7 separate regions of the Homo sapiens genome follow, and regions 2, 3, 4, 5, 6 and 7 are each reported to be linked to region 1. The links are microRNA targets in miRTarBase. Many come from high-throughput screens and were not tested one by one. Region 1 holds a microRNA gene; each other region holds the end of a gene's coding sequence.

Region 1 (3,095 bases):
AGATTTTTTAAGACATAGTAGGACGTAGAAGTCTGACTTCATTACCTTGTACCAGTCGTAGCTGGATGTTGGAAAACCGTGTAAAAGCACAACTATCTCTGGACTTCCAACCACACCCACAGAGTCTAGGAAGAAGGAAAGTACAATCAATTATGCCAAATCCCTATAAAAATAACCTCGAAGATGTTAAAATCTAAGTAATCTGATACAAAGAACAAGCAACTGTGACCAAATTGACATTAAAATGACACAATTATTTGTAAAATGTAAGCTTAACTGCGTTAGGTGAGAACAGGCCTTTTCTCCTTTCAATCTGTATATTAAAACATTGTAAAAATCATGCTATGTGAAAATACTTGAAGGCACCTTGTTTACTTTCACCTAGGTGTTTTTAAACAGCATCTCCCCATTTCTCCTTTTGTTCTGTAATATGCAAATTTTTTCAGTGAAAAGTAAATTTTCAGTTAAAAGCATATGATCACAACACATAAACTACAAATTCTTTGTACTTTATCATGAATGGCCTCACAGAAATTCTCTAAGATACAGCAACTATTCCCAAGGAACACCTTTAGCTTATGCTGTTTGCTCAGCACTTTTTATTCAGCAGGAGACCCAATCTAACATCAAAAACATAATAAAACTATTACAAAATCCTGTCAACTATAAAAAGGGCTTAATCAACATAAACATGAACTTTTTTAATGCATATGACAATATGGAAGCATTCAGCATCATCTAAATTAGGTAAACATTTAGACAATATTAACCTTGCTAATAGTATGGGATTAGAACAGGTATATTCATATACTGCCAGTGACATGAAAATTTGGTAATAAGGTTTTCAAAAATAATTTAGAAGCAGTTAAAAATTGTATATACTTTAGCCTAAGAGTTTTGTTCTTGAGAATCTGTGCAAATAAAATCATTCCATTTATACAAGTAGTATAGTTTGAAAATGTAAGGAAAAAATAAACTGTATGGACATGAAGCTTTTACTTCAACATTAGTTTTCTAAAACAGTAAAACTGGAAGTAACCCAAGCCAACATAATAAAAATTGTATACTTACTTAATTGAATATAGCAAATGAGAGGAGGTCAGGAGCAATAATGAAAAACGGTTTATGACAAACATTTTTCGTTATTGCTCTTGACCCCCGCTCAAAACAAATCATTTCCAATCTGTTTCTCAGTTTCTTCACCTATAAAATGAGGTTAATGGCACCTATCTCCAAATGCTGTTGTAAAGATTAAACAATGAAGGCTGAAAACATAACTCAGTGCCTGGCATATGGTAATTACTTGATAAGTAGTGGTCATAATAATCATCATCACTAGCAAATTAATTTATATAATGGTATCAAGACTTAAATCACAGTTACACTACAAATAATCTACAGAAAAAATGAAATCAGGGATGGTAAGGAGAGAGAACCAATGGTGGTTATATCTATTAATATTTTATATATTACCTGACAGGTTGCTCAAAAAAAAAAAAAAACTAATATTGGAATACATATCAAGCTACAAAGAAAACTTATACTAAAAGGTAAGGTCTGCAGGTTGGAATCTCAGTCCCTACCCCCATTCTCCCAGCAGTTTTCTGCGCTTCTCTGCAAGCACACTACACAGAAAGAGAGAGAGATACTCTCCTCCATCATTAAGGAGCAACAAGAGACCAATAGCCACAAAATAAATACCTCAGCTGGGACTTATGTGACCGATACACGCAGGACTTCCAATAGTCCACTTCTTACCTTGGTAGAAGATACGCAGTCCCTTGTAAGTGAAAAACTTGCCTGAAGACTTCCATGAGTGAAGGGCAGGGGAGAGCTGAGGGGGTGGGATGTGCAGGTACGCAGCAAGCAGGGGCACGGCCAGCAGCCCCACCTGGACCCACCACTCCCTCATCCTGTAGGAAAAGCAGAGACCCACTGTAAGCAGTCAGGTAACATTGTCCACTCATCTACAAACCAAAACCTGGTAAGATGGGGTGGGAGATTGCTGTTACCATGCAATGATTACATTGCCCTTCACATAGGCACAAAGCTGACCGAGACTATAATCAAACCTCTGTCTGCCATAGCACTCACCATATTTGTTCATCATTCTAATCTTAAGGAAAAAAAATACATTATTTCAACATATAATCTTCTGCCTCTGCTCCCCGACTTTAACCCCTTAGCCCCTACCCTTGTGGTCTTCCCAATACCTGCTGAAGAGGACTTTATATAAATAAAAGGGACATGACTTAAATGCTGGACACTCTTTCGTTGACTTTTATCAAGGCTTCCCAGGAAAAAAATAACTTCTTTCTTATTTACTCCAAAAGCTCTACCATCTACCCACTACCCCCAACCAGTAAAATGTTCAAAAAATATATATGTGCTATATCTCATGTTTTAAAGAGTGTGTGTGTGTAGTAACTTATCACATGTCCTCAAGCAGAGAGCTACTCCTGATTTTCAGCCCTCCTGCCTAAATGAAGCCCCATTTAGTACTCCTTTCTGGATTTGGGCTGAGAAACTGCTCAGGGTAAACAGTCTGTGAAAGTAAGATAGCTGCACTGTGTATTCCAACATAAGCAGCTTTGTCATGACCCTGAATATCTAATCTCTTGAGAGGTCAAGGCGGTAGATTACATTTCTGCTTTTCTTAGCAGACTCTTTAAGTTTCCATTTAATTTCCTAAGATGCTCCCCCACCCCCAGATAAGGCATAACTCATACCCAGCGTGTGAGAATTGATTTTGTCTTTGGAAAAAGAGCACTGGTTGGTACACCCAACCCTCCCATGCCCAGGACTTCAAAGGCACAAGTCAGTTTATCCACATTGACAAGGAGTGCCAAACAGGAATTATAAACCGTTCTGTTTCAAGTCTATGACTTCTGATGGTCAACAGATCAAGAATTGTCAGTAGAATGGAAGTTCTCTCAAAACAGCCAGAATGGAAATAATACCCTCCAAAACTAAAATTAGAGTTGTCATAGAGCTGAAATAAATTAATTGCTAAAGCCCTGGGGGAAATGGCTTTCCGTCTGTACACACATTCTTCCCTATTGCCTGTAATCTACCTACCCGTTCGCTAACTTCCT
Region 2 (3,095 bases), not on the chromosome of region 1:
CTCGATCTCCTGACCTCGTGATCCGCCCATCTTGGCCTCCCAAAGTGCTGGGATTACAGGCGCGAGCCATTGCGCCCGGCCGGGAAGTTTTATCCTGCATCACTTGCAGGGATATCAGACCCTCCTCCAGCTGTCCTCGTACCAGCTGTGCAGGCTGCTGGAACCGCTGTTGGGACCTACAATCCCTAGAGTGACTGGTAATCACCATGCACAAAGGTGAACTGCAACTGTACGGAGGCAACCGAGCACCACACCCACAGAGCCAGGATCATCCAACCCATTCGCCCAACCCCAACCATCACCTCGTGGCAAAACCACCCAAATTCCTTCCCATCTTCACTCACAATCTTCCCCATGGAGTTCACCCCAACAACGCACCAAATCATATTTTTTTTAAAAAGTAGCTAACATTCCTAAGGCGCAGTGATCCAGGAGGGTCTAGCTCGAGAAGTACCCTAAAGTGCACAGGTGGTCCTGTACCTGCACTACACAGAGTTAATGAAGGCTCCTCCCCTCAAGCGGTCAAGGCAGCACAAGACATCCGTGTGTTAGGGGAGGCATTTTTCTGAGTGATACTCTCACCCAGTTTTGATACACTCCTTACAGCTGTGCTGAGGCTAGGGAAAGAGGTGAAATGGTCATCAACCTCCCCACACAGAGGTGGCAGGAAAAGATGGGAGGGGCAAGATAGAGCAAGAAAGGGGAGATGTTCTCAGGGAACAATGAAGATGAAAAAGTGGCAAGCTCAAGGAGGCAGCCAGAGAGGGACAAGGGAAAAGTCTGCAAGAAAGCTTATCCTCCAGATGGGCTGCCTTTTAATTCTTCCCAATTAGGTAGGTAAATGAGTACAATTACTACAGTTATCCTAAAGTGCTAAAATGTGAAGCTTTGGCTCATGAAGATTTTAATGCCCATATAGGTTCCAAGAAGCATGACCTATCCTGTCTGCACCATATATATATGAAAGGAAGCTAAGGCTGTGCCCAAAACAGCCTTGTGATAGAAATGAGACAAACCAGGAACAATACCCACGATTCAAAGGAACACCATTTTAATATCTGAAAGTAGCATAATGTTCAGCCAATAGGCATTGGTACAACCATACATACTGCTTGTTTACAGCAGGCATCCCTTCTGAGTGGCTGGCATCTGTCCTGTACCAGTTGTTAAAATATTTTGAAAATCATCTCTGTATTAAAATAATTGTGGCCCTATGAGATAGGGAATATGAAATAAATGAAGGATTCCTTTAACATCAAAGGTCTTTAGAGTAAGACTAGAATACATTAGTATATTTTAAAAGTCTAAGGAATGCAAAATTCAATAAAGTGATATAGCCAACCCTTCACCTAAGAAAGAAAAACACATCGGGGAACTTCCCACTGTACAAAGATTTTCCAGGATGGGAAACTAACATGATAGAATTATCTGGGTGCTAATGGGCTTGCTAGTTACATTCTGTGCACAAAGGAAGGAAAGGTTTATAAGCACTGGATCCCAAATACTTTACATTCATTGCAACATAGAAGAGAAGAGAAAAACTATAAATGTAGTTTTAAATTAAATACCAAAACTAATTTCACCACTTACAGTTCATTTCCCAGTGTGACTTTTTGCATCTGAGAGCCAGAATGTTTGTCAACCAAAAGAAATCCATGATGATGAAGAAACCACATGGCTGAAGGTGATTTTGGTCCATTGAACTGATGATCGTTTACTCTAAGGCAGCTAAGGAGACAGTACGTAAGCACTTGGATCTCGCCAGGATGGAATTGGAATGTATCCTCAAGAGACAGCAGCAAGAAGTCGAAGAGTCCCGCAAAATGGCCAATAAAAACATCATATCCTCCTTTCTATTCACAAACAACTATTATCAAATCTTTCCCAGATATCTAGAAAGCAGACACTATGACAAATCTTCAGGCTAGGAAGTTCTTCCTGGTATCTAAACTAATTCCTTCTGTTGCAATCTAAACTCAATCTCTTACTCTATCCTCAATGAAAACCAAGAGACACTGCTCATCCTCACTTACTGTTGATTTTCCCTGGATCCCTTTCCTATCTAAGCGACACAACTCAAATGTCCCTTCTTGGCTCTTGTATCATCCAAGATTCTTGCCAGTTATGCAGGCTGCTGCTAAGGAGTGATGGAGATGCACCCAGGTCAGAGGCATCTTCCTGGCTGTGGTGGCAGGCACTGCCAATGCCCAGATCATGGATCTTCCTGGTAGCTGACCTCCTGACAACCTCTGGGTCTGACCAGCATCCCCCAGGGGAGGTAATCAAACCAAGGCCCAGGGCTGCCTAGGAGCCTGTAGACACTAAGAGCACTGGAGAGCCAGAGAGGATGTCCTCTCTGTTCCCCTCCTACTCCCCACTCTGTCCTTTAGGAAGAGGGACCTCACTGAAGGACTCCTCAGTGGCAGAATGAATCCATATGGCTTGGCAGGCCAGCAGAGAATTTCAGAGAAAACGTCTGGAAAATGGGAAGCTAGGTCTTCAATGGTGGCCGTTCTAAAGAGAAAAAGAAGGAAGAGGAGAAGAACCAACAGGAGGTGGTCTTCTGCTTCCACATTCACATCTGGTGACTGGCTGCTGGTATGGGGATAGCTGGATGCCTTCCAATGCACACCAAGAATAACTGAATGCTTCGGCATGGCTTTGAGATGACCAAGGACAGGGCCAGACTTGGTCTTGCTTCTTCTCTGAGAGACTCGCCATTTTCTCTGTAACCAGAACTTCCCTGAGGCACCACACGGCCCAAATCTTCCATCCCAGCAAAGACTCTTAGTTGAAGAGACTGAATAAAAGTGTTACAATTAGACAAAAAGGGAACATATGATTCATTCCTCCTTTTAACACAATACTTTGAAGATGTCACCACAATTTGGATCTGGCTATATTTTAAGTTCATTTACAAGTAGACTAGTTCTCAACTAAAAATAACCATGTGCGTTATACATTTCGACAGCTGCCTGGATTTTCCTCCGAAGGAAACAAGATTCTATATTTCACTCACATTCAGCAGAGATTCATTTTAACCCATTCGATGAAGACATAAATCACCACTACCACCCACTGGTGGCTGTGACTTT
Region 3 (3,095 bases), not on the chromosome of region 1:
CCCAGAAACCTCACTTATCTCAGTGGCCCCTGTGATGAGGAGCTTCTCTGAAGCCATGGAATGTAGTTGTTTGAAAACCACTGATGTAATCAGTCAAGGCCTTGGGTGTCACCAGCCAAGAATGAGCGGGGCGTTTGATCTGGTCGTAGAGTAATCCTAAGCGATGTAACCTTTCCCCCAAGGAGTGAGTGTGGAGTGTCAGGACATTGGGAACGGGCAGCCATGACTCCCTTCCCTCTGCCCTGATATCCTGATCTGGCCTGTCTCTCCCCAGTCCTGGAGGCCCTCAATGTGCTGGTGAATAGACCGAATATCAGGGAGCCCCTGCGGATGGACCTCGCTGACCTGCTGACACAGAATCCGGAGCTGTTCAGAAAGAATGCCGAAGAGTTCACCCTCCGATTCGGAGTGGACCGGCCCTCCTAACTCATGTTCTGACCCTCTGTGCACTGGATCCTCGGCATAGCGGACGGACACACCTCATGGACTGAGGCCAGAGCCCCCTGTGGCCCATTCCCCATTCATTTTTCCCTTCTTAGGTTGTTAGTCATTAGTTTGTGTGTGTGTGTGGTGGAGGGAAGGGAGCTATGAGTGTGTGTGTTGTGTATGGACTCACTCCCAGGTTCACCTGGCCACAGGTGCACCCTTCCCACACCCTTTACATTCCCCAGAGCCAAGGGAGTTTAAGTTTGCAGTTACAGGCCAGTTCTCCAGCTCTCCATCTTAGAGAGACAGGTCACCTTGCAGGCCTGCTTGCAGGAAATGAATCCAGCAGCCAACTCGAATCCCCCTAGGGCTCAGGCACTGAGGGCCTGGGGACAGTGGAGCATATGGGTGGGAGACAGATGGAGGGTACCCTATTTACAACTGAGTCAGCCAAGCCACTGATGGGAATATACAGATTTAGGTGCTAAACCATTTATTTTCCACGGATGAGTCACAATCTGAAGAATCAAACTTCCATCCTGAAAATCTATATGTTTCAAAACCACTTGCCATCCTGTTAGATTGCCAGTTCCTGGGACCAGGCCTCAGACTGTGAAGTATATATCCTCCAGCATTCAGTCCAGGGGGAGCCACGGAAACCATGTTCTTGCTTAAGCCATTAAAGTCAGAGATGAATTCTGGAGTGCAGCTGAGTCTTTGATGAGGGGATGGGGTGGTTTCATCAGGACCATAGAGGACTAGGGATTTAAGCATAAATTTCTGACCTTGCTTCCCTTGAATGTTCCCTAAACATCATAAGGAATGTTGGCCATGGAAAAATAGGCCATCCTTGGACAGAGGAGCTTTCAGAAGGTCCACAGGGGTGACGTCCCCATTTTATTTTATTTATTTATTTATTTATTTATTTATTTATTTATTTAAGACAGAATCTCACTCCGTCGCCCAGGCTAGAGTGCAGCAGTGCAATCTCGGCTCACTGCAACCTCCGCCTCCTGAGTTCAAGCGATTCTCCTGCCTCAGTCTCTTGAGTAACTGGGATTACAGATGCCCGCCACCACGCCTGGCTAATTTTTGTATTTTTAGTAAAGATGGGGTTTCACCACATTGGCCAGGCTGGTCTCGAACTCCTGACCTCAGGTGATCCACCCGCCTCAGCCTCCCAAAGTGCTGGGATTATAGGTGTGAGCCACCATGCCCGGCCAACACCCCCATTTTAAAGATGAGGCAATTGAGGCACAGAGCACTTCAGTGGATTGCTGGGGTCCACTCTGCCAATCCACACCCCTGCAGGTGAGCCAGGGTTATGGCTGGGGTGTGTTTTGTTTTCTGTATTTTTCATGAGCTGCTTTCATCAGCACACATGCCCCAAATGGCTGATAAAGCCAGACTGGATAGTTAGCAGGAAATTGTAATCAGCTCAGGGGTTTGTATCTCATGAGCAATGGAAAAACAAAAACAAGCCAAAACTTCAGCCAGGGATTAACTTCAGTTAAGGGATTAACTTAACCCAGAAGAAGAACTTTCTGGTTGCAATTGTTGTAAGCTCCTGGAATACTGCTGGCTTTTCAGAGATAGAATATGGGGTGATTTGAGTCAAGGAAGTCACCCAGATCCCACTAGTTTCTAGAGAATCTTCTCCAGCTCCTGCCCTGGAGTCCCCTAACCTGAGAAGAAGTGTGAAAAGAGGGGAAGATAACCAGAAGAAGTGCCACCAGAGTCAAAATGTAAGTTTTTTATTTTTGGCGACCACTTACTGAACACTTGAGTGGCAGGACTGGGCAAAGCTTTTTGCCCATTTCATTATCTCGTTTAACTCTTGCAACACCTTCATAAGGTTGGAACTCTCATTATCCCCTTTCAGACTGTAAACTGGGGCCCAGAGAGGTTAACTGTATGTGTCACACAGCTGGTTAGTGGTGGGAACCAGGCCATTGTCCTTTCCCAAACACCTTGCGCAGTTATTGAGACCTCAGCAGGTGAGGAATCCCCTATGGCCAGAGTTTATTATCCCAGAGTGCAGAGGTTCCTGGGCCAAGTATGGAGAGAGCACTGAGGGGCCAGACAGGATTTTACAAAAGTACTTTTAATGCAGTTAAAACCAACGCCACACACCCTTGCCTAAGCCCCTGGCTCTGGTGCCTCCATGGAGCAGAAGGGAACCCCCGGGCCGTGGCTGCTGAGCTGGGCACCCTGCCCATCTCTGCCCACAGAGCCAGTCACCTCCTCACTTCTTCTTGGTCTTCACCAGTCCTTTCTGCACAAGGCTGCGGTACAGTTCCTGGATGTATGTGTAGACGCACTTGGAGTCGGGCACAGCCAACCGCACCATGTCATCCACGTCCAGCAGCTGAGCACAGTCAGCCAGTTTCCTAAGGAATGGGGTGGAATGAGGAGCAGAAGGTCAAAGGTGAAGGATATGGGAGCCAAGGGGATGGGTGCAGGCAGCCCAGCAATGACGAAGCCCATAGGATGGGCTGGGATGTTGGGGCTGGGAGATCATCTAAGCCAATCATCCCATTATATATCTAGATGAGATAACTGAGACCCCAACAGAGTTAAGACAAACCCAGGCCAGGTGCTGTGGCTTCCTTTAGGTAGGTCACAGGATGTAGACAGGTAACCCCAAAGCCAACACCAGTGAATAATTC
Region 4 (3,095 bases), not on the chromosome of region 1:
TTGAGTGTTATCTCAAAAAAAAAGTCTCCTTTGTATATAATCAATAACACAAAATACAAAAAAAAATTTTTAAGTGATTAATAGGAATTTTTTCCCAATTAGAAAAGTTACAAATTATCCAGCAAAAAACCTTCTATGGGCCGGGAGTGGTGGCTCACGTCTGTAATCCCAGCACTTTGGGAGGCCGAGGCGGGCGGATCACCTGAGGTCAGGAGTTCAAGACCAGCCTGGCCAACATGGCAAAACCCCATCTCTATTAAAAATACAAAAACATTAGCCTGGCGTGTTGGCGGGTGTCTATAATCCCAGCTGCTTGGGAGGCTGAGGCAAAATAATCACCTGAACCCTGGAGTCAGAGGTTGTGGGGAGCCGAGATTGTGCCACTACACTCTAGTTGGGCGACAAGAGTGGGACTCCGTCTCAAAAAAAAAAAAAAAAAAAAAAAAAAACCTTCTATCATATCCTCTTTATTTCTTGCAGCAAAATATACTGTGACCATGTAAGTCGTTAACAAAGATACTATTTTTCTAAATAAATAAAATGGGTATAACTCACCAAAACGTAACAACAAAATAATTCCTAAGAACACTATGAAAAGCAAGATAAATAATTATCTCCTAAACGACAAAACAGGGGAATTGCATTTAGATTATCTAACAGGCTATAACCATTATTGCACAACCAATAAGCACTGAAACACCATATCAAGCTACATAAACTCATATAAAAGAATTAATTCTGATAACATTGCTGAATTCTTTCTGGAAGAATGCACCCACTAAAAATATCAGGTCCAATACGTTAAATATAAATGAGAAACTGGTATTAGATGGGAAATATCCTTTGCCACATCAGAAAACTTCGTCAGTATTTCTCTGGGGTTTGGAGAGAATTGGGAGTGATGTCATGTCATCTTGATCTGGGAAAAAAATGGGTCGGTTTCTTTTCCAATTTTTTAACTAAAACAGGGGATTAAAAAACGTTTAAATTTGAAAATACTTTTCTGTAGCATCTTCTACTTGTCTGTTTCCAAATAAAATGCAAATTTGGAACCCAACGCCAGCAGATAGTTCCTGTGCTCCTGCACAGCAGGCCCAGGAGAGGGGCCTGATCCTAAACAACATCACAGGTAAGACTGAGAAAAACAAAAACAAAAACAAAAAACAACAACAAAAAACAACAACAAAAAACACTGGGTTTTGTCATCAGGGCTTGAATACTGCCCACAGGTTCTCACGAGGACGAGGAAGTGGGAAGAGATATTCTAGGTAATTTTTTTTTATACAATTAACAAACTGTGATCAACCAACTACCTAGGTATTACAATTTTAATAACGTTTTCTCAGTGGTTTAGCTCCTTAGTAAACAGTCTGTACAGTTAATAAACAACTTTTTTTGTTAGAGAAGATCATGAAAATTTTGTCAAAGATTTGACCATACTCCTCTGTATTTTAATACCCTGGTGAACACTTAACATTTTTTTGGTTACATTTCTAATTTGATAGAAAGCATTTGTAGTCAACTGAATTTTAATGTAGCCAAGAGGAGAAAAGGAGTGGTTTCAAATCAAGCGTTGTCCACACTTTTAGAATGGGAAGGCATAGAACATGGTATCTCATGGGAAAGATCATGTTTACAGTAATGCATTCCAGATTAAAAAGTAAAAGGGGCAGAGAGAGTAGAGGCTGTTTCTCAGCATGTGAGGATCTAGTGACTGTCACCACATTATTTGAGAAAACTGCTACCACTACCACAGGCCAGGATCTTTCCATTTTTGTCTCTCACCTTCTCCCAGAACCAGTCATGCTGAATGACCATCACTGATCCTACGGAACTTTGACAAACGATGAAACTAGTGGAGGCTTTCAATGTAGACATCCTCAGCAGAGGAGTGTAGCCCTCGTACTGCTGCTACAAGTCACACGCTGAGTCACATTGCTGTCTGCAGAGTGATGTGAACCTGTGTATACGTGCAGTTTCTTCTTTACCCTTCGTCCCTTCCCCAACATCCTCAGTGAGCAAATCGCATTTCTACCTGGTGAGAACACCCCTGTAAAGAGCCTACTTTGTTGGTCCAACACAGTGTGTCTGCCCAAATGCCCTTTATTAATTAAGTCACCTTTTGGGGAGTAACATAATCAGTGTAAATCAAATGCTGTCCCCATCCCATTCCCCAAGAACCTGCATCTTGAGAATTTTTGGCTGTGTTTTGTAAAAGCTTTTTGCTTTTACGCTAGTGGTGATGTTGGAGGAGAATACAGGATAATGCATCCTCCCTATGTCTAAAAGAATAGCAGGCTCTAAGGCAGACTGTCTTCATTCTGAAGGGCCCAGTAGAGCATTACCACAGCCAAGCTGTTTCCTGAAAGAACAGCAGGTGCCTAGCACTCTTTGCTTCCAAATGCCACTGAAATGAAAGAAGAAAAGAAGAACAGACAATAAAAGGTAATAAAACCCAACCAAATAAATGACGACCACAGGTCAGCGCCCTCTCCTGGGCCTGCCGGGCTTTTCCAGTTTTGCTGTTGGCTTCTGGTCCTCCCAGGCATCGGACCCCTAGAGGGCTCCTCTGGCATCTCCGAAGACCTCTTCCAAAGGCTCTCTGCATCTCTCTCCTCCCCACACCAGTCTCTTCATTTGAGGCGCTGAGTCACGTTGGCCAGGGCAACTGCAAAGGCCTGCACGGCTGAGAACGGATACTGGAAGTCTAGAATGTACGCACTGCCATCAATCCGTCCAAACTGCATCACCTGGAGGAGGGCAGGGGAAGCAAAGACATTAAAGAATAAGGTGAAAAGGCCAGGCGCAGTGGCTCACGCCTGTAGTCCCAGCACTTTGGGAGGCCGAGGTGGGCAGATCACGACGTCAGGAGATAGAGACCACCCTGGCTAACACGGTGAAACCCCGTCTCTATTAAAAATACAAAAAATTAGCCGGGCGTGGTGGCGGGCGCCTGTAGTCCCAGCTACTCGGGAGGCTGAGGCAGGAGAATGGTGTAAACCTGGGAGGTGGAGCTTGCAGTGAGCTGAGATTGGGCCACTGCACTCCAGCCTGGGCGACAGAGGAGACTTCATCTCAAAAAAAAAAAAAAAAAA
Region 5 (3,000 bases), not on the chromosome of region 1:
TGACCCTCAAGACCGGAGGTGACTCTCCCTCCAAACCCTTTGCCCCAAATCCCCATGGTCCCACCAGGTCCCAGCTCCCAGCCCCAGCCCCAGCCCCGGCCCCGGCCCCCCTTCAGCAGCTGTCCCCTGGGGTGTGCATCTTCACCTTCTTCTCCTTCTGCAGATGGACCAACCCAGACGGGACCACCTCCAAGTAAGCCTCCCCACGAATTCAGCCTCTTCCTTCCAAGGGACCAGGGCGCTGCTGTCCTCTCAATGCTGGCATTTGATTTGTCTCACCAAGGCCAGCTACATTCCCTTGTGGAAGGAATGTTAAGCCCCTTCCCCACCCTTTATCCCCCTAGGATCTTTGGTTTCGTGGCCAAGAAGCCGGGAAGCCCCTGGGAGAATGTGTGTCACCTCTTTGCAGAGCTTGACCCAGATCAGCCTGCTGGCGCCATTGTCACCTTCATCACCAAAGTTCTACTGGGCCAGAGAAAATGAAGGAAGGCCACAAGCTCAGAGCCCACATCAACACTGCCCCCCTCCCAGCACCCCACAGCCCTCACATCCCCTGGCCTGGACCCAGGAGACCCAGGAGAAAGCACCCTCCCTTAGGAATGAGGAGTGGGCATCAGGCCTGGGACACTGCTCTCCTTCCCCGCCCCCAGCCTGCTAAGTTAAGTGGACAGGCCCACAAGATGACCTTGCATGTGAGCAGATGGCAGAGATGGGTGTGTGAGGGGTGAGGAGGCATCAGCAGTTGAGCCCCGAAGGAGATCAGGCAGCCCCACCTGCAGGAGAACGTCAGCCCTCCAGGGGATCAGCCCCTGCCAGTTCCACCCAGCTGCAGGTGCCAGCACGGCAGGGATGGGAGAGGGGTGGGGAGCGAGTCACTGCCTCCTCTGAGCAGAGATTCAGAGTAGGATCACATGAATAGGGGAAAAAAGAGAGTCTATTTTTGTCTAATAATAAAGAATTTCTATAAACTTTAGCCGAAATTGGAGTCAACACTTATTCACAGGAAGGTCAAAGCCTCATCTCCCAGGGGACGTATCTGTGCTCAGGCCTGTAGCCAGGCCCATGGAACATATGATTCCCATCCCTGGCCCAACATTGGTCCACATCTCCCCATGAGCAAGCTGCCTTCGGCTGCCCCCATCCAGCAGTCCTGTTCCTAGCCCAGTGGACTAGAAAGGCTCCTGGTTCCGGCCATACTGATAAATACGGAAACTCCATCTTTATCGGCTGTATAAACATCTCTGGTCTGTACATACATTTCATACATCGTAGGGTGGGAAGCGAGGGCCAAAGGGAGGCCCAGCAGCACAACAGCTCACCCGCTTTCCCTACAGCCCTACCCGCTCTGTGCAAACCAAGGCCAACAGCTCCTGCTGCCTCTTCCTCCCTGGAAAAGTCACTGTTACGGGGAGGGGGCCAGGGGTTGAAGGATTAGAAGGAGATAGAGGGCTTGGTGGGGAGGACACATGTAAGTGCTAGAATCAAACACTGAAGCGAAACAGGCAACTGGCACAAGCAGCAAGCTGAGGCATGGGACGGGGCAGGAAAAGGGGAGGGAGGGGCCACGCTGCCCCTCTGGGCTTGCTCAGCTAAGGCTCTGGGGTCTTGCCCTCACGCTGGCAGGGAGACAGGCCCCAGAGCCTCAGCCCCAATACCCGGGAGCTAGGGACATGGGTGGCACTGGTAAAGAAAGGATGGAAGGGGAGAAAGGAGTGAAGGCCCTAGTGCCCTGTCACCTCACAGCCCCTCTCTCTTAAACATGCAACAGGCACCCACCCATGTGGGTCCAGGTATGGGGAGCCAGAGACCTAGATCCTCTGTGGTGCCTGAGCAGGTTGGGGTGGGGAGCCAGCTCTCAAGGGAAAGATGGAGAGCCTAGAGGAGTCTTCCTGGGGCAGCAGCCAGTGAAAGGACAGAGATGACCAAAGAGAGGTCCCCTGGCCCTGCCAGGGGTATGACAGCAGCAACTGGTTCACACAACCAGGAAAGAAAACAAGAAAGAGGAATTCAAGGAGAAATACCATGGTGAGTAGGGGAGGGGGCTGTCTACTCTACCCTCTACAAAGCATCATGCCCGAATAGCAGCTGAGATAGGGTGCTCACGCCTCTCCACCCACACAGGGCCGGTGAGGGAAAGGGGGACCCAGAAGCCCACTGACCAAAGCGAGTGGGACCACCCACATACCAACACCATTCTTTGGGTCCATTCCTGTCCAACCAGGGACTCAGGCCCAGGGACTGACAACAGTGGCAGCACCAGGTCAGAAACGTGGGCACAGAGAAGCGTGACAGGGGCCTGAGCCAGTGGGGGCAGAGTGACTACACACCTCCAGGGGCCTGCTGGGTAAACGAAGCCTCTGGGAAGTCAGGAACTGGGTGCCTGGCCCAGCAGAGGGTGAGCAGGGAGAAGGAGCAGGTCTGGAGGGGAGGCCCTAGCCACTCAAGGGGTGCAGATCTACTTTGACTTTCTCCCCGCAGCTCAGCATTCCAATGGTGGGGAAGAAGCCTCCAGAAGGAACAACAGCATCCTTCTTCCCAATGATCTTGCCATTCCGAGTGAAGAAAACCTGGGGAGGAGGTGGGGAGAAGAATGGAGCAAGCAGGCTGTGGCCTCTTCCCTGAGGATGCTGGAGCTCCACAGGCCTGAACCCCAATCACCCCAGCTTCCAGCGGGGCTGGAGAGGGGCAGTTAAGGTGTTATGGGAAGTGACCACCAGAGGGCGTGCTGAGGCCGGAAAACAGCCTCCCAAGACCGTCTCCCGATCTCAGCAACCCCTGGAGCTGGGAACAGCCCTTGGGCAACGCCAGAGCTTCCCGTCTTTCCCACCCTGGTTGTGAGTTCTGTTCCCCACTAATACCCACCCTTTGCCCAGACCCAAAAACCCTGGTCCCACCTCAAACTCTCCGTACTCACCACCACCTTCCTGCCCTCATGCTCCGGCTCTATCTCTTCCCCATCCTCTTCCTCTTCCTCTTCCTCCTCTTCCTCTTCCCCTTCCT
Region 6 (3,095 bases), not on the chromosome of region 1:
ACACCCAAAGGGAAGAAGTAGGAGGGCATGACCCCAAACTCTTTCCAGCCACTATTGCCTTGAGTGTACTACCTATGGAGTACAACACCTTCCTTGCCGGGGATTAAACATTCATTTTGGTGCCCAGCCTACGGCAGCAGCTCCACAGCTAGTGGCGATTATAATTAGCATTCTCTCATTTGGGGTTAGATTTCTTTTTTTGTGCCGGTAATGGCAACTTGAAAAGATACTCAAAGAGATTTTAAAAATTTAGTCTGTTAGTCAAACTTACTAGACAATGTTTAATGGAGATTGCGCTTATTGTGATTTTGAAAATTAAAACAACAACAACAACGAGGCTTTCTCTGGTTCCTTTTCATTGTAGAGTTATCCTCCCACATACAATGTGAAGGACATGCTTGTGCCGACTGCAGTCTGGAGCGGGGGTCACGACTGGCTTGCAGATGTCTACGACGTCAATATCTTACTGACTCAGATCACCAACTTGGTGTTCCATGAGAGCATTCCGGAATGGGAGCATCTTGACTTCATTTGGGGCCTGGATGCCCCTTGGAGGCTTTATAATAAAATTATTAATCTAATGAGGAAATATCAGTGAAAGCTGGACTTGAGCTGTGTACCACCAAGTCAATGATTATGTCATGTGAAAATGTGTTTGCTTCATTTCTGTAAAACACTTGTTTTTCTTTCCCAGGTCTTTTGTTTTTTTATATCCAAGAAAATGATAACTTTGAAGATGCCCAGTTCACTCTAGTTTCAATTAGAAACATACTAGCTATTTTTTCTTTAATTAGGGCTGGAATAGGAAGCCAGTGTCTCAACCATAGTATTGTCTCTTTAAGTCTTTTAAATATCACTGATGTGTAAAAAGGTCATTATATCCATTCTGTTTTTAAAATTTAAAATATATTGACTTTTTGCCCTTCATAGGACAAAGTAATATATGTGTTGGAATTTTAAAATTGTGTTGTCATTGGTAAATCTGTCACTGACTTAAGCGAGGTATAAAAGTACGCAGTTTTCATGTCCTTGCCTTAAAGAGCTCTCTAGTCTAACGGTCTTGTAGTTAGAGATCTAAATGACATTTTATCATGTTTTCCTGCAGCAGGTGCATAGTCAAATCCAGAAATATCACAGCTGTGCCAGTAATAAGGATGCTAACAATTAATTTTATCAAACCTAACTGTGACAGCTGTGATTTGACACGTTTTAATTGCTCAGGTTAAATGAAATAGTTTTCCGGCGTCTTCAAAAACAAATTGCACTGATAAAACAAAAACAAAAGTATGTTTTAAATGCTTTGAAGACTGATACACTCAACCATCTATATTCATGAGCTCTCAATTTCATGGCAGGCCATAGTTCTACTTATCTGAGAAGCAAATCCCTGTGGAGACTATACCACTATTTTTTCTGAGATTAATGTACTCTTGGAGCCCGCTACTGTCGTTATTGATCACATCTGTGTGAAGCCAAAGCCCCGTGGTTGCCCATGAGAAGTGTCCTTGTTCATTTTCACCCAAATGAAGTGTGAACGTGATGTTTTCGGATGCAAACTCAGCTCAGGGATTCATTTTGTGTCTTAGTTTTATATGCATCCTTATTTTTAATACACCTGCTTCACGTCCCTATGTTGGGAAGTCCATATTTGTCTGCTTTTCTTGCAGCATCATTTCCTTACAATACTGTCCGGTGGACAAAATGACAATTGATATGTTTTTCTGATATAATTACTTTAGCTGCACTAACAGTACAATGCTTGTTAATGGTTAATATAGGCAGGGCGAATACTACTTTGTAACTTTTAAAGTCTTAAACTTTTCAATAAAATTGAGTGAGACTTATAGGCCCAAAGAATTGTGTGTATGTTTTTTCTCTTTTATTTAACAGTCATCCGGTTCTTCCCTTTCTCTCTTGGCAGTACTTGGAACTCTTCTCAAGGTTAATGTGTTTACTCCGGGAAATGAAGGGCTACCAAGTAACGAGTGATTTTTAAAAATCATTTTTTTGTATGCCACAAGAGGGCACTCTTGGCTTTGCTTGCAAATCTTCCCACGCTCTCTTCCCTCACTACTTTTTCTTTTCTTTTCTTTTCTTTTCTTTTCTTTTCTTTTCTTTTCTTTTCTTTTCTTTATTATTATTATACTTTAAGTTTTAGGGTACATGTGCACAATGTGCAGGTTAGTTACATATGTATACATGTGCCATGCTGGTGTGCTGCACCCATTAACTCGTCATTTAGCATTATCTCCTAAAGCTATCCCTCCTACCTCCCCCCACCCCACAACAGTCCCCAGAGTGTGATGTTCCCCTTCCTGTGTCCATGTGTTCTCATTGTTCAATTCCCACCTATGAGTGAGAATATGCGGTGTTTGGTTTTTTTTTCTTGGGATAGTTTACTGAGATTGATGATTTCCAATTTCATCCACGTCCCTACAAAGGACATGAACTCATCATTTTTTATGGCTGCATAGCATTCCATGGTGTATATGTGCCACATTTTCTTAATCCAGTCTATCATTGTTGGACATTTGGGTTGGTTCCAAGTCTTTGCTATTGTGAATAGTGCCGCAATAAACATACGTGTGCATGTGTCTTTATAGCAGCATGATTTATAGTCCTTTGGGTATATACCCAGTAATGGGATGGCTGGGTCAAATGGTATTTCTAGTTCTAGATCCCTGAGGAATCGCCACACTGACTTCCACAATGGTTGAACTAGTTTACAGTCCCACCAACAGTGTAAAAGTGTTCCTATTTCTCCACATCCTCTCCAGCACCCGTTGTTTCCTGACTTTGTAATGATTTCCATTCTAACTGGTGTGAGATGGTATCTCATTGTGGTTTTGATTTTCATTCCTCTGATGGCCAGTGATGGTGAGCATTTTTTCATGTGTTTTTTGGCTGCATAAATGCCTTCTTTTGAGAAGTGTCTGTTCATGTCCTCACTACTTTTTCTAAGATTTTCTCCAGCATCTACCAGGGAAGGTAGAGAACTTTGTTGCTTTCTGAGCCAGTTGGAATTTGATGGCCAGCCATGGTAGTATTATTTCTGTTCAGGAGTATAATTAATTCTTGCCTAGTGGATAACATCT
Region 7 (3,095 bases), not on the chromosome of region 1:
CGGGCAGCTCGGGGAGCCCCAGCCTGTGACAGCCGTCCTCACTGACCCCGCAGTTCATCACGGATGGCTACGCGGCCCACCTGGCGCAGCTGAAGTACAGCCACCGGGCGCGGCCCGCTCGCAACACGGCCACCCGCATGGCGCTGCGCAAGGGCAGCTTCGGCCTGCCCGGCCAGGGCGACTTTCTGCGCTCCCGGAACCACCTGCTTCGCACCATCTCGGCCCAGCCCAGCGGGCCCAGCCACCGGCACGAGCGGACACAGAGCCAGGCGGATGGCGAGCAGCGGGGCCAGCGCAGCATGAGTGTGGCGGCCGGCTGCTGGGGCCGCGCCATGACTGGCCGCCTGGAGCCGGGGGCAGCCGCGGGCCCCAAGTAGGGCACCGTGAGTGCAGCGCGGGGTCTCCATGGTGCTAGGCCAGGGTGGCCAGCCCCGCCAGGAGGCCTGGCCTGGGCACACGCACTGACGTGGGCCTGGGAGATTGTCCCAGGGCCTTGTGGAGGACACGGGCCGCACCACACAGTGCTCCCTGCCCTGCCTCACGTCCTCGGGCCTGACGGGTCCGGCTTGTCATGGAAGCTGGCAGGGACCACCAGCCCCAGGATGGCAGAGGGACCAGAACCTCCCACTCAGACTGGCCCGGGAGGTTCTCCCAGACATTTTGCCCTGTGTGGATCTCCAAGTGTCCTGGTGCCAGGTGTGGGCCCAGGCGCAGCCTGCCACCTCCCCATCCACTGGCCACCCTCACTCCCAGGTCCCCTCCCATTTGGTAGCAGCTCCAACAGGGGTCCAGCCTGCATCTTGTTAACTCGAGTTTCTCAACTGTTCAACCTCACTGGTTTTGCACTGATTTTTGAGAGCGGAGACCCATTACCACCTCCTATGGCTACAGCCCCGTTGACATGCATGAAACTCAGTACCTGCTGACCCAGGACCTACAACCACACTGAAGGCTCCAGTGCGGCAGAGCCTCGTGCAAGCAGGAGAGAAAGGCTGTATCTTAATTTCTGCACCCCGGACCCTGCCCACCTGTCTGCCTGCCCCGCCTGGAGCCCAGGCCAGTGTTGTTTCCAGCCTCAGGCCACGGGCTGGACGGGCCTGGCCGCCTCTTCCGCTCCCTGCCATCAGTCAAGGCCGCCCGCCCACGTTTCTACGCCTTTCTACTTCTCAATCTGATTTCTATGAGGTTTTTTTAAACGAGCAATCCTTGGCTGCTTCCTTTTCTTAACTCTTTCAGTACTGAGAGCAGCCCCTCCACACTGAAAACACCCAGCACTGTGACGGAGTCCAGCCTGGTTCTGGGTCCCGTGGGCCCTGCTCCTGCCCACTTAGCGAGGCATGGGCTCCTTGCCTCACCTGGCCCCGGCAATCCCACTGAATTTCTACTCTGGGGTGGGTGGGGCACACACTTCGGTTTTTTTAATGCCAATTCCGTTTTCATGCCGAATCTAAGAAGCCACAACTTGCTTTGTCAGCTTCAGGGCAGGCAGCCATGACTTCATTTCTCGCCTGAACAAGGACCATGCTGTCCTGCACGCTGGGTCTGACCGTCTGCCCTCTCTCCCCAGCACCAAGCGTGACCTTGGCTGTGGCGCTCAACGGCCAGCTCCGGCGGCCCCTCTGCTGCTCCTCGGCTTTCCCGGAAGTGGGAGAGCCTGCCTGGCCTCGGCCTTTGTCCAGCGACCAGGCTCTGTCCCCGAGAAGCTACGGCCGACCTGGGTCTGGTGTTGGGACGCATGGACCGGGCTGGGGAGGTGCACAGAGTGATGTTAACTTTTTCCCGTGTGTAGATATGTACAGCCAAAGGGTCGTGTAAATGTTCTGCAAAAGTGGGTCTATACAGAGTGAAAGCTATTTATTTTGTGCAGAGAAAAAAGTCTGGAGGGATGGAACCTTCAGGGTTTATTCATATTTAAGATGTAGCTTTTTGTTGTTTCAGGCATTATGTATAAAGCAACGATTATTTTATGGACCAAGTTTTCATGTAACTGTTGCAGTGAAAGTGCAATATCTGACCCCCCTGCTCCCAGCAGGAAGTTGCTTGGCCCGACAATCACAGCCCCTGTCAGGGGCCCTGTGGCCAGTGCCTCCTCCTCTCTTGGCCCCACCTTATCCTGTCTTGCCTGCTGCCTGGGAGACCAGCCATCCAGAGAAGCACCTGGAAGAGTCTCGGGCCCTCCTGCAATAAAGGCCGGGAGGCCCTGTGGGCAGTGGGCTCAGCCTCTCCCCAGGGGGGCAGCTCCCCCACGGCTCCTCACTCCCCGCCTGCCTGCCCAGCCGCCAGCCATGCCAAGGACAACAGCAATAGTCCCCTGGGGCTCTCCCAGCGGCCCTCAGCCATAGATGGCAAGGTGGGCAGCCTGCCCCCCCATGGGAAGTCTCTTCTGTATCCAGGTCTGCTTTCCACCTCCCTTCAGATTCCTTTTGGCACATTCTCCTCTTGAGGAAGTACCAGTCTTTCTGAAACTAAGAGAGGGAGGGCAGCGTCCTTTAAAAATACCAAAAATGTTTACAGAGTTGGGTGCTGAGCTGCAGGGCTCAGGCCTGACCAGTCATAACCAAAGGGTGAGGCAGGCCTTGCTGACTGCCACCCCCCAGGCCTGTTAGAATAGAAGCCTTAGTCCCACTCCCACCACACCCCCACGCCCCACCACCTGCCTTCTCTTTGATTTCTAAAGAGGGATTCAGCAGAGACCCCCCACCCCTCCCTGGCTCGGTCTGAGTCCCACTGCCCACCCCATCACAGCCTTCACGTCTCAGCCCCTCCCGTCTGGTCTGTCCGTGTGCCGTCTGTTTCTCTGGGCCATGTGTGAGCAGTGTCCCCATCTCCCCATCCGTCCCTGCTGTCCCCGCATCATTGGGCCTGAGTGTGCTCTGTATACAACGTCATGTCTGTTACACCAATTAAAGAAGCGGGAAGGCTTCCTTCTGGATCTCTTTACTGCAGTGGCGACCGTGGGGCATGGTGGGATGGGGGCATGGAACAGTAATGCTAGTGACACTCACAGTGACGCCAACACGTGAGTGCGGGGCTGACTCTAGGCCTAGCCTGCTTCTAGCTCCTTCCTGGGATGGAACTCAGTTTGCCCTCACAGA

Evidence for each region. Region 1 holds the annotated microRNA hsa-miR-335-5p (UCAAGAGCAAUAACGAAAAAUGU, at 1,133-1,155, opposite strand). A microRNA usually pairs through its seed, bases 2 to 8, with sites in the 3' UTR of a target mRNA and lowers its output. Matches are read on the target gene's strand: a 7mer-m8 pairs with bases 2 to 8, a 7mer-A1 pairs with bases 2 to 7 and ends in A, and an 8mer does both.
Region 2: the mRNA of SLC4A8 is a reported target of hsa-miR-335-5p. Seed matches in the 3' UTR shown: 7mer-A1 at 1,786-1,792.
Region 3: the mRNA of SMTNL1 is a reported target of hsa-miR-335-5p. The part of its 3' UTR that is shown has no 7-base or 8-base seed match.
Region 4: miRTarBase lists TULP4 as a target of hsa-miR-335-5p. The part of its 3' UTR that is shown has no 7-base or 8-base seed match.
Region 5: the mRNA of TNS2 is a reported target of hsa-miR-335-5p. The part of its 3' UTR that is shown has no 7-base or 8-base seed match.
Region 6: miRTarBase lists LIPA as a target of hsa-miR-335-5p. The part of its 3' UTR that is shown has no 7-base or 8-base seed match.
Region 7: the mRNA of PITPNM2 is a reported target of hsa-miR-335-5p. Seed matches in the 3' UTR shown: 7mer-A1 at 2,437-2,443.

Annotation. Positions count from the first base shown.
Region 1 is chr7:130,494,186-130,497,280 of GRCh38, reverse strand. MIR335 (microRNA 335) reads right to left here and starts at 1,170; the gene lies at 1,077-1,170. It overlaps MEST (mesoderm specific transcript), which reads right to left. Exons shown (of 12, transcript NM_002402.4): 2 at 1,759-1,913; 3 at 46-125.
Region 2 is chr12:51,507,131-51,510,225 of GRCh38, reverse strand. It overlaps SLC4A8 (solute carrier family 4 member 8), which reads right to left. Exons shown (of 25, transcript NM_001039960.3): 25 at 1-2,800. The coding sequence ends at 2,788. Among named protein-coding and RNA genes, the nearest start is that of SCN8A, 83 kb to the left of the region's middle.
Region 3 is chr11:57,549,689-57,552,783 of GRCh38, reverse strand. It overlaps SMTNL1 (smoothelin like 1), which reads right to left. Exons shown (of 8, transcript NM_001105565.3): 8 at 2,512-2,816. The coding sequence ends at 2,672. It overlaps UBE2L6 (ubiquitin conjugating enzyme E2 L6), which reads left to right. Exons shown (of 4, transcript NM_004223.5): 4 at 275-1,122. The coding sequence ends at 426. Among named protein-coding and RNA genes, the nearest start is that of SMTNL1, 14 kb to the right of the region's middle.
Region 4 is chr6:158,506,233-158,509,327 of GRCh38, reverse strand. It overlaps TULP4 (TUB like protein 4), which reads right to left. Exons shown (of 14, transcript NM_020245.5): 14 at 1-2,750. The coding sequence ends at 2,634. Among named protein-coding and RNA genes, the nearest start is that of TMEM181, 52 kb to the left of the region's middle. RefSeq lists an enhancer at 2,343-2,843.
Region 5 is chr12:53,063,400-53,066,399 of GRCh38, forward strand. TNS2 (tensin 2) reads left to right here. Exons shown (of 29, transcript NM_170754.4): 27 at 1-18; 28 at 164-193; 29 at 345-980. The coding sequence ends at 483. It overlaps SPRYD3 (SPRY domain containing 3), which reads right to left. Exons shown (of 11, transcript NM_032840.3): 10 at 2,915-3,000; 11 at 917-2,567. The coding sequence ends at 2,433. Among named protein-coding and RNA genes, the nearest start is that of MIR6757, 8.0 kb to the left of the region's middle. RefSeq lists an enhancer at 2,540-3,000.
Region 6 is chr10:89,212,331-89,215,425 of GRCh38, reverse strand. It overlaps LIPA (lipase A, lysosomal acid type), which reads left to right. Exons shown (of 10, transcript NM_000235.4): 10 at 365-1,854. The coding sequence ends at 598. Among named protein-coding and RNA genes, the nearest start is that of CH25H, 6.6 kb to the right of the region's middle.
Region 7 is chr12:122,983,309-122,986,403 of GRCh38, reverse strand. It overlaps PITPNM2 (phosphatidylinositol transfer protein membrane associated 2), which reads left to right. Exons shown (of 26, transcript NM_020845.3): 26 at 54-2,924. The coding sequence ends at 377. Among named protein-coding and RNA genes, the nearest start is that of ARL6IP4, 4.2 kb to the right of the region's middle.